Linked DNA regions of Homo sapiens: region 2 is linked to region 1. Evidence: fine-mapped expression QTL. A gene starts in region 1. The other region holds a variant in brackets. All regions are shown on one strand. Distances are between the middles of the regions.

What was found. PIP is the estimated chance that this variant, and not a neighbour inherited with it, causes the effect. A credible set is the group of variants that fine-mapping cannot tell apart.
Region 2: its variant is the best candidate, but not a certain one, in a credible set for the expression of SPX in whole blood (TOPMed, PIP 0.55).

Annotation. Positions count from the first base shown.
Region 1 is chr12:21,523,525-21,528,060 of GRCh38, reverse strand. SPX (spexin hormone) reads right to left here and starts at 1,765. Exons shown (of 6, transcript NM_030572.4): 1 at 1,583-1,765; 2 at 1,095-1,175; 3 at 869-926; 4 at 272-334. The coding sequence starts at 1,588.
Region 2 is chr12:21,581,138-21,585,137 of GRCh38, reverse strand. The region is part of intron 1 of GYS2 (glycogen synthase 2); the gene reads left to right. Among named protein-coding and RNA genes, the nearest start is that of GYS2, 22 kb to the left of the region's middle. The variant A/G (reference allele first, on the strand shown) is at 1,954.

The DNA.
Region 1 (4,536 bases):
GGCTTGGGGAGCCGCAGCGCCAGCCTGGGCCGCCCTTGCCACCATTGGCGCGGGGCTGGACGCGCGAGCTCCCAGCTCCGGCGCTCGGCATCCAGCTGCTGCTGCTGCCAACCCGGGCTGCCCTCGGGCGGACTGTATCTGAGGGCGCCTCAGAGCCGCGTCTTTCCGGTGAGGAGACGCTTTCTTTCGGCACCAGCGCGGAGCAAGCCCTGCCCGCCCCATCCTATTCCAAAAGCGCAGGACTAGCGCCCTTGCACCCTTGGTCACTCACCCGGCAGTGGCCGGTCGGAGAGGTCCTTTCTCCGGCTCTGGTCGGAGATGAAGCGGCGACCCTCTGCAAAAACGAGACCTGGGGCTCAGCGACAGCCTGGCCCGGGACAACCCGGGCTTAAACCTCAGCTCCTCCCGGCACAGCGCAGTCCCCGGGCGTGGGGAGGGGGCAGGTTGCTCCAGGATAGGGTCGCGCGGGGCTGCCGAGTTTCCAGCGCTCCCAGCGCAACCCCGGGCTGAGCCAGGGGCCCTGGAGCTCTGGAGGAAAGCCCCGCGCCTGACCGGACGCCGCAAGGGCGCTTTGGAGCGGAGGTCGGGTTACTGAGATATTTCCCAGGCAACCCGAGTCCCCATTTGGACCAAGAGAAGCAACCCTCCAGTTTTGGATGGAGAATTTCTAATAAGGATGGAGGATTTCCAATAATCAGGGACTCTTCCCCTCTCCCACCCCTCCCTCACCTACCGGTCTCTTTGATGGCCTCGATGATTTAAGGGAATAAACTCGACATTATTCTCTCTCCATAACTCTCCATCTATCTGTTCCTGACTCCTAGGGGTCTTCCATTATTGTAGGAAGAGCGAAATATTTGGAACTTACGTGCCCCTTTCAGGTAGAGCATAGCTTGAGGAGTCCAGTTCCTTCTCTCCAACAGTCTCTATAGCCCGGGGGAAGGGAAGAGCAGTTAATAAAACATTGCAGCTCAGTCCTCTATTACAGCAAAATAAAGGAAAAAGAAGAGAATAAAACAAGAAGGAAGAAAGAAAGAGCAGAGTGGACACACAGTGCGCATTGTTTTAAAATTTTTTATTTTGCATTTGATTACCTGCGGAGCGCAGCTGGAGTTTCCCAGGAAAACAAACACCAGGAAAAGAGCCAAGGTTGTTGCTGCCAGACTTCTGAGTCCCTATATGAAGCGATCAACCAGAAAGGGTCATTTCTGTGCCAATAGGATCTTCTGCTTCCTTCCTTGACGCCTGGACAATTATAAACCCCCTTACTTCTCGCAATATTCTGTTTTAATACTCAGTTTTCTGGAGGTGTTTCCCTTCTACCTTCTAGTTAATTCACAAAGAGTCCACTTGAAAAAACGTATTTAGAAACATATTATTTGTATTACTTCACCCAAATGAAGAATAAGTAAATACGTGAATTTTTTTCTTAGTAAAATCAAATGATTCTGTTATTCTAAAGGCGTATCGTTCAAATATCCTTTAAACTCTAAAATCCTTATTAAACATGAAATAGGTAAAATGCTATAAAACGTTTTAAAAAATAGCTAAGAAGTCTCAAGTTAATAAAGCCTTTACTTACCTTCATGTTCTGCGTCTTTTCAGAACCCTGAAATAACTATAACTTTATCTGTGAGTTTTCGACTCTTGCTCTGAAATTGGAGCTTTTAAAATCTTGGTGTTAAGGGCACCTCCCCATCTGGAGTAGAGTTTGGGAGTCCACAGGGACATCTTGTCAGTCTTCAAGCAAGATTGAGAATCTGATGACTCCTCCAGGGAGCTTCATTGCAGGAAGTAGAGGAATGATTGATGGGCAGAAATTATTTGTTTAAATACTGATTGCATCACCCAGGAGGCCTTCAGAATGTGTCAGCATCATTGGCCTTGCTTTTCCTACTAGCTGCCCAAAGTAACATGTTATTATTATTATTAATGAAAACAATCAATAGTCCAAGGCAGAATCAAAAGTAAAAGAATAAATCAGAAAACTTTTCTTGGGTAACTAGCCATCAGTCTATCACTGATGGCTAAAGATGTATGAAAAGGTTTGGGAATCTCAATGGAATTTGACATCAGTCATTCACTTAATTATCAATTCATTCTGTTGTTTAGCAAATATTTATTGAGTGCCTATGAGACACACAATCCTTGTATTTCAAGGGACACAGCCATGCACTGAAAAGACATGGTCTCTGCTTTGATCTAAGTTACCTACTAGTTAAGGTACACAGTAAACTGATGAATAGATAAATAAGACACAGTAGTTACCCCTTAATCGTAGGTGTGTGTGGGGTGGAGGAGCATGTTTCAAGACCCACAGTGGATGCCTGAAACCACTGATACGTATATGCCTTATTATACTATTTTTTTTTATCTGTTCACCAAGATGGTTACTAACTGATTAATGGGAGAGTGGTGTTTACATATGGACATGCTGGACAAAAAGATGGTTCATGTCTTGGGTGGGCTGGAGCTGGACAGTGAGAGATTTCAACACCCTACTCAGATTTAAAGCTCACAATTTAAACTTATTAATTCTGGAATTTCCCATTTAATATTTTCAGACTGTAGTTGACCATGGGTAACTGAAACCATGGAAAGTGAAACCGTGGATAAGCAGGGACTACTGTAACTACAGAATGTTTTAAATTGTTAAGTAAAAGTAAGCAAGGTGATGTGATAGGATAAGTGGTGGGCTACTTTAGGGAAGGTTAAAAACAGAGGGTAGTCTTGAAGGATAAGGTGAAGTAATGGGAGAAGCTGGGCAGGAATTAGTATTCCAGGCATTCTCAATAGAAGAAAGAAAAGCAAAATCTGTGGACAGCAAAGAGCATGACTTGCTTGGGGACTAGGAAAGAGGCCAATGGAGGCAGCGTTGTGTGGGTGAACGGGGGAGGTGCTTTGAAATGAGATTGGAGAAGAAGAAATGGGCCAGTTGATGTGGAAATACGATTATAAGCAATAGATGATGATGGCTTACACTGGGATGGTACACACAGGGAAAGAAGAGCTGTAAATGAATTTGGAATACATGTTGTGGAGGTAGAAAATATAGAACTTGTATATAAAAGGGATATGAAAGTGTGAGAAAAATAAATCAAGGATGATTCTTAGGTTTATGGATAAAACTGTGGGTAAATTATGAAGTAATTTACTGAAATTAGAGAAACTTCTTAAGAAGCAAGTTATGAGAGGGAAATTAACACTTGCCATATAGGCATATTAAAATTAAAATGTATATTAAAAATATCCAAGTACAAGTACAAAATAGAAGGTTAGAAATGCAAAACTTGATAGAGGTCAGCCAAGAGGTCACCAGCCTACAGATTTTCTTTTTGGTGGGGGGCAGAAATGATTAGCTTTAAGAATTTTAAGAATTCTAAGAATTTTACAACCAGTAAAGGGATGAGATTAAACACAACACTTAGGGAGTGAATAGGGCTAAAGAAGAGTGGCAGGGACAGAGCTATGAAAACAAACGCATAGAGAATGAGCAGAGGAAGAGCCAGAAAAGGAGGTTGAGGTAGAGTCAGAAAGAAAGGAGAAATTCCAGGGGACCCTGATATCATGGAAGCCAAGTGAAGATCCAGTAGTATTGGGAGGTCAAGCAACATTAGCTCCAAGAAACATCCACTGGATTTGGAATATGATGGTTTTGAGGATAGAAGCAAGATTGGAGTTGGTTGAATAGTGAATATGATATGATAAATTAAAGCCAAGAATAAACAATCTCTTTTACAGATGTCACAAAAGAAGGGAAAGGAAAAAATGAGAATTTTTTTTACTGTTATTATTATTGTTATTGTTATTTTAAAGACAGGGTCTCACTATGTTGTTCAGGCTGGGCTGAAACTCCTGTCCTCAACTGGTCCTCCCATGTCAGCCTCCCAAACCTCTGGGATTATAGGCATGCTTGGCCTGTGAAATCTTTTTTTTTTTTTTAAAAGATAAGATAGAAGATTTGTTATACTTTTTGGGAAACCTTTCATTTCTAGGAAATTCCTAAAATTCCCTGAATTATGAATTATGAAATTATGAATCTTTTTGGGAGGCAGAGTGTTTCTTCTATTGTACAAACTGAAAATGCCAGATAGTCAGTTTTCTAGCCTCCCTATCAGGGAGAATGTGGGCATATGACACGGGCTTCACCAATCAGATGAGCATGCTTAGATGGGGAATCTCATGCCAGGATGGAAGAAGTGCTCGGGTGAAGCAGGGGTTGTAGTAAGATTGAGTTTCTGGAGTAGTCTTAGCTACGGTGCTAGTGGCAAGTTCCAGCATCCAGTGCTGTAGCAGTGGTGATGCCAGCTGCAGTGTCCTTTTAATAAAATCTTTGTTTTGCCCAAATCAGCCATGTTTATTGGTTTCTGTTGATGTGACAACTAAGAAACAATTTGTAAGACATGTATATTGATGGGGATGATCAGTAGGGAAGGAGAAATTCATGATGTAGAAGAAAGGGAATATAACAGCAAAAGGAAATTCTTAGAAGGCAAGAGGGATAGGATTCCAAGTATATCAATATTCAGTTAAAAG
Region 2 (4,000 bases), 57 kb before region 1:
TGCCACTTCCACTTCCACTTCCACCCTTTGATTCCTGGACCCGTGAATCCTGTCTATGGGAGAAACAGTACCATATATTGGACACTGATTCAGAGCATACACAGCCTTCTGGAGAACTTTGCCCCAGGCCTGCAAAGTATTGTCACCTAGTTGGCATTGTAATCGTGACTTCAAAAGGCCATTCAAAAGCTGCTTCAGGATGATAGGGATCATGGTAAGACCAGTAAATTCCATGAGCATGAGCCCACTGTCACACTTCTTTAGCCATAAAGTGAGTGGCTTGGTCAGAAGCAATGCTGTGTGGAATACCATGACAGTGGATACGGCATTCTGTGATTCCATGGATGGTAGTCTTGGCATAAGCATTGAGTTCAGGATTGGGAAACCCATATCCAGAGTAAGTGTCTATTCCAGTGAGGACAAGCCTCTGCCCTTTCCATGATGGAAGAGGTCCAATATAATCAACCTGCCACCAGGTAGCTGGCTGATCACCCCGAGGAATGGTGCCATATCAAGGGCTTAGTGTTGGTCTCTGATGCTGGCAAGCAGTGGCTGTGGCCAGGTCAGCTTTGGTGAGTGGAAGTCCATGTTGCTGAGCCCAAGCATAACTTCCATCCCTGCAACTGTGGCCACTTTGTTCATGGGTCCATTGGACGATGACATGAGTGGCCTGGGAAAAGGCTGAGTGGTGTCCACAGAATTGATCATCCTATCCACTTGATTATTAAAATCCTCTTCTGCTGAGGTCACCCATTGGTGAGCACTCACATGGGATGAAAATATCTTTGTAGTTTTTGACTAATCATAGAGGTCCATCCACATACCTCTTCCCCAAATTTCTTTGTCATCAATTTTCCAGTCATGCTTTTTCCAAGTCCCTGACCATCTAGCCAAACCTTTGGCTACAGCCCATGAATAAGTATATAATCGCAAATCTGGCCATTTCTCCTTCTGTGCAAAGTGCACAACCAGGCACACTGCTCAAAGTTCTGCCAACTAGGAAGATTTCCCTTCACCGTTGTCCTTCAGGGATGTCCTAGAAAGGGGCTGTAGTGCTGCGGCTGTCCACTTTTGGGTGGTGCCTGCATATCGTGCAGAACTATCTGTGAACCAGGACCTAGTCTTCTCTTCCTCTGTCAGCTGATCATAGGGAACTCCCCATGAGACCATCGGTGCAGTCTCAGGGAGAGAAAGCAGTGTGTCAGGAGTGGAGACCATGGGCATTTGAGCCCCTTTCTCATGTAACTTACTAGTGCCTTCAGGATCTGCTCAAGCCCAATCGCATATATACCACTTCCATTTGCTGATGCAATGCTGCTGTGCACAGCCCACTTTATGGCTAGATGGATCAGAAAGCACCCAGTTCATGATAGGCAGTTCAGGTCACATGGTGACTTGATGACTCATAGTCAAATATTTCGTTTCCACCAAAGCCCAGTAACAGGCCAAGAGCTTTCTCCCTAAAAGAGAGTAGTTATCTGCAGAAGATGGCAGGGCCTTGCTCCAAAATCCTAGAGGCCTCCGCTGTGATTCAGCCTGCCAAATGCTCCAAACAGCATCCCTATCTGGCACTGACACCTCAAGCATCATTGGATCTGCTAGGTCATATGGCCCAAGTGGCATAGCAGCTTGCACAGCAGCCTGGACCTGTGGCAGAGCCTTCTGTTCTGGACTCCACTCAAAACTGGCAGCCTTTTGGATCACTCGATAAATGGGCCAGAGTAACACACCCAAATCAGGAATATGTTGCCTCCAAAATCCAAATAGGCCCACTAGGCGTTGTGCCTATTTCTTGGTTGTAAGAGTGGCCAAATGCAGCAAATTATCCTTCACTTTAGAAGGAATATCTCAAAGAGCCCCAAACCATTGGACCCCTATAAATTTTACTGAGGTAGAAGGTCCCTGAATTTAATCAGATTTATTTCCCATCCTCTGTCCCACAAATGTCTCATC[A/G]ATAAATCCAGTGTGTTTGCTACTTCTTGCTCACTAGTTCCAGTCAGCATGTCATCAATGTAATGGACCACTGTGATATCTTGTGGAAGTGAAAGGTGAGCAAGTTCTCTCCAAATAAGATTATGGCACAAAGCTGGAGAGTTGATATACTCCTGAGTTCATCATTTTCTTTCATCACTTTGTCCAGCGAACTTACAAGCAACCAACCAACTTCACTATGTTCCTTGATTCTCCACATATAGTCAAAAGTATTATGTATACAGTAGCTAAATTCCTTGCCTCTCACAAGCGTTGAATCAAGAGTGTCAAATGCATTTATTTTGCATAACTCTCTAAACAATTGATGCCAAGGATTATCAGTGTTCTCCATACCATTAGAAGAAGAGTCCTTAGCATATTTGGGTCTAATCATATTAAGCAGCCAACTCCAGAAACCCCAAAACCAATGAAAGAACTCCATCCTTAATATTCTGTTCCTCTAGAACCACTCCTGGTACCAAAATCTGTATTAGGGTTCTACAGAGAAACAGAATTAATAGGAGATATATATCTATATCTATATCTATATCTATATCTATATCTATATCTATCTCTATATCTATCTCTATATCTATATCTATATGAGAGTTTATTATGTAGTATTGACTCACATGTTCACAAGGTCCCAAAACAGGCCATCTGCCAGCTGAGGAACAAGGAAGCTAGTCGGAGTCCCAAAGCTGAAGAACCTGGAGTTCAATGTTCCAGGGCAGGAAGAATCCAGCATGGGAGAAAAATGTAGGCTGGGATGCCAAGCCAATCTAGCCTTTTCACATTTTTCTGCCTGCTTTATATCCTGGCTGTGCTGGCAACTGATTAGATGGTGCCCACCCAGATTAAGGGTGGGTCTGCCTTCCCCAGCCCACTGACTGAAATATTAATCTCCTTTGGTAACACCCTCACAGACACACCCAAGATCATTACTTTGCATCCTTCAGTCCAATCAAGTTGACACTCAGTATTAACCATCACAGTCACTTTCTAATGAGGTTGGTTTTTTTGTTGTTGAGTTCCTTGTAGATTCTGTATATTAGCCTTTTGTTGCATTCATAGTTTGCAATTTTTTTTTCTCATTCTGTAGGTTATCCGTTTACTCTGTTGATTCGGTCTTTTGCGGTGCAGAAGCATTTTAGTTTAATTAAGTCCCATTTGTCTGTTTTTGTTTTTGTTGTGTTTAGTTTTGAGGACTTGGTCATAAATTCTTTGCCTAGGCCACATCTAATTTTTAATCCTCTTTTAGAGCCTGTCTTTCCCTCCAAACTAAATATTATTTTACCCCCATTTGACACATGAGCTAATTGAGCCTTCTGTCTGTTAAGTAAGTTGACTAGTTCAGTGTAAGTTGTTTCTAATTTTTTGCCATCATAATGCTTTAGTAAACATCCTTTTCATACTCTCCTTAATTTTCCCCCAGGATGGTTTTCTAGATGTGGACTTGCTGGATCCAAAGTGTGCATATTTTCCAAATGTATCCATATATTGTGGCTTTGTGTTTTAATAGAGGTAGCAGCAATATTAGAGGAGAGAATTAAGGAACGATTCTAGTGTAGCAGGACAAGCTGCATACAAAACCCCTCAGACACCGAGTTAAAGAAGGAAGGGCTTTATTCGGCTGGGAGCTTGGGCAAGACTCACATCTCCAACAACCAAGCTCTCAGAGTGAGCAATTCCTGTCCCTTTTAAGGGCTTACAACTCTAAGGGGGTACATGACTGGGGGCTGCATGCACTGGTCATCAGAATGGAACAGAACAGGACAGGGATTTTCACACTGCTTTTCCATACAGTGTCTGGAATCTATAGATAACATAACTGGCCAGGTCAGGGGTCTATCTTTAACCAGGCCCAGGATGTGGTCTCAGGCTGTTTGCCTGTGGATTTCATTTCTGCCTTTTAGTTTTTACTTCTTCTTTCTTTGGAGGCAGAAATTGGGCATAAAACAATATGAAGGGTGGTCTCCTCCCTTACTAGGAAGAGAGAAATACCATGTGAGAATGAAATACGTATTTG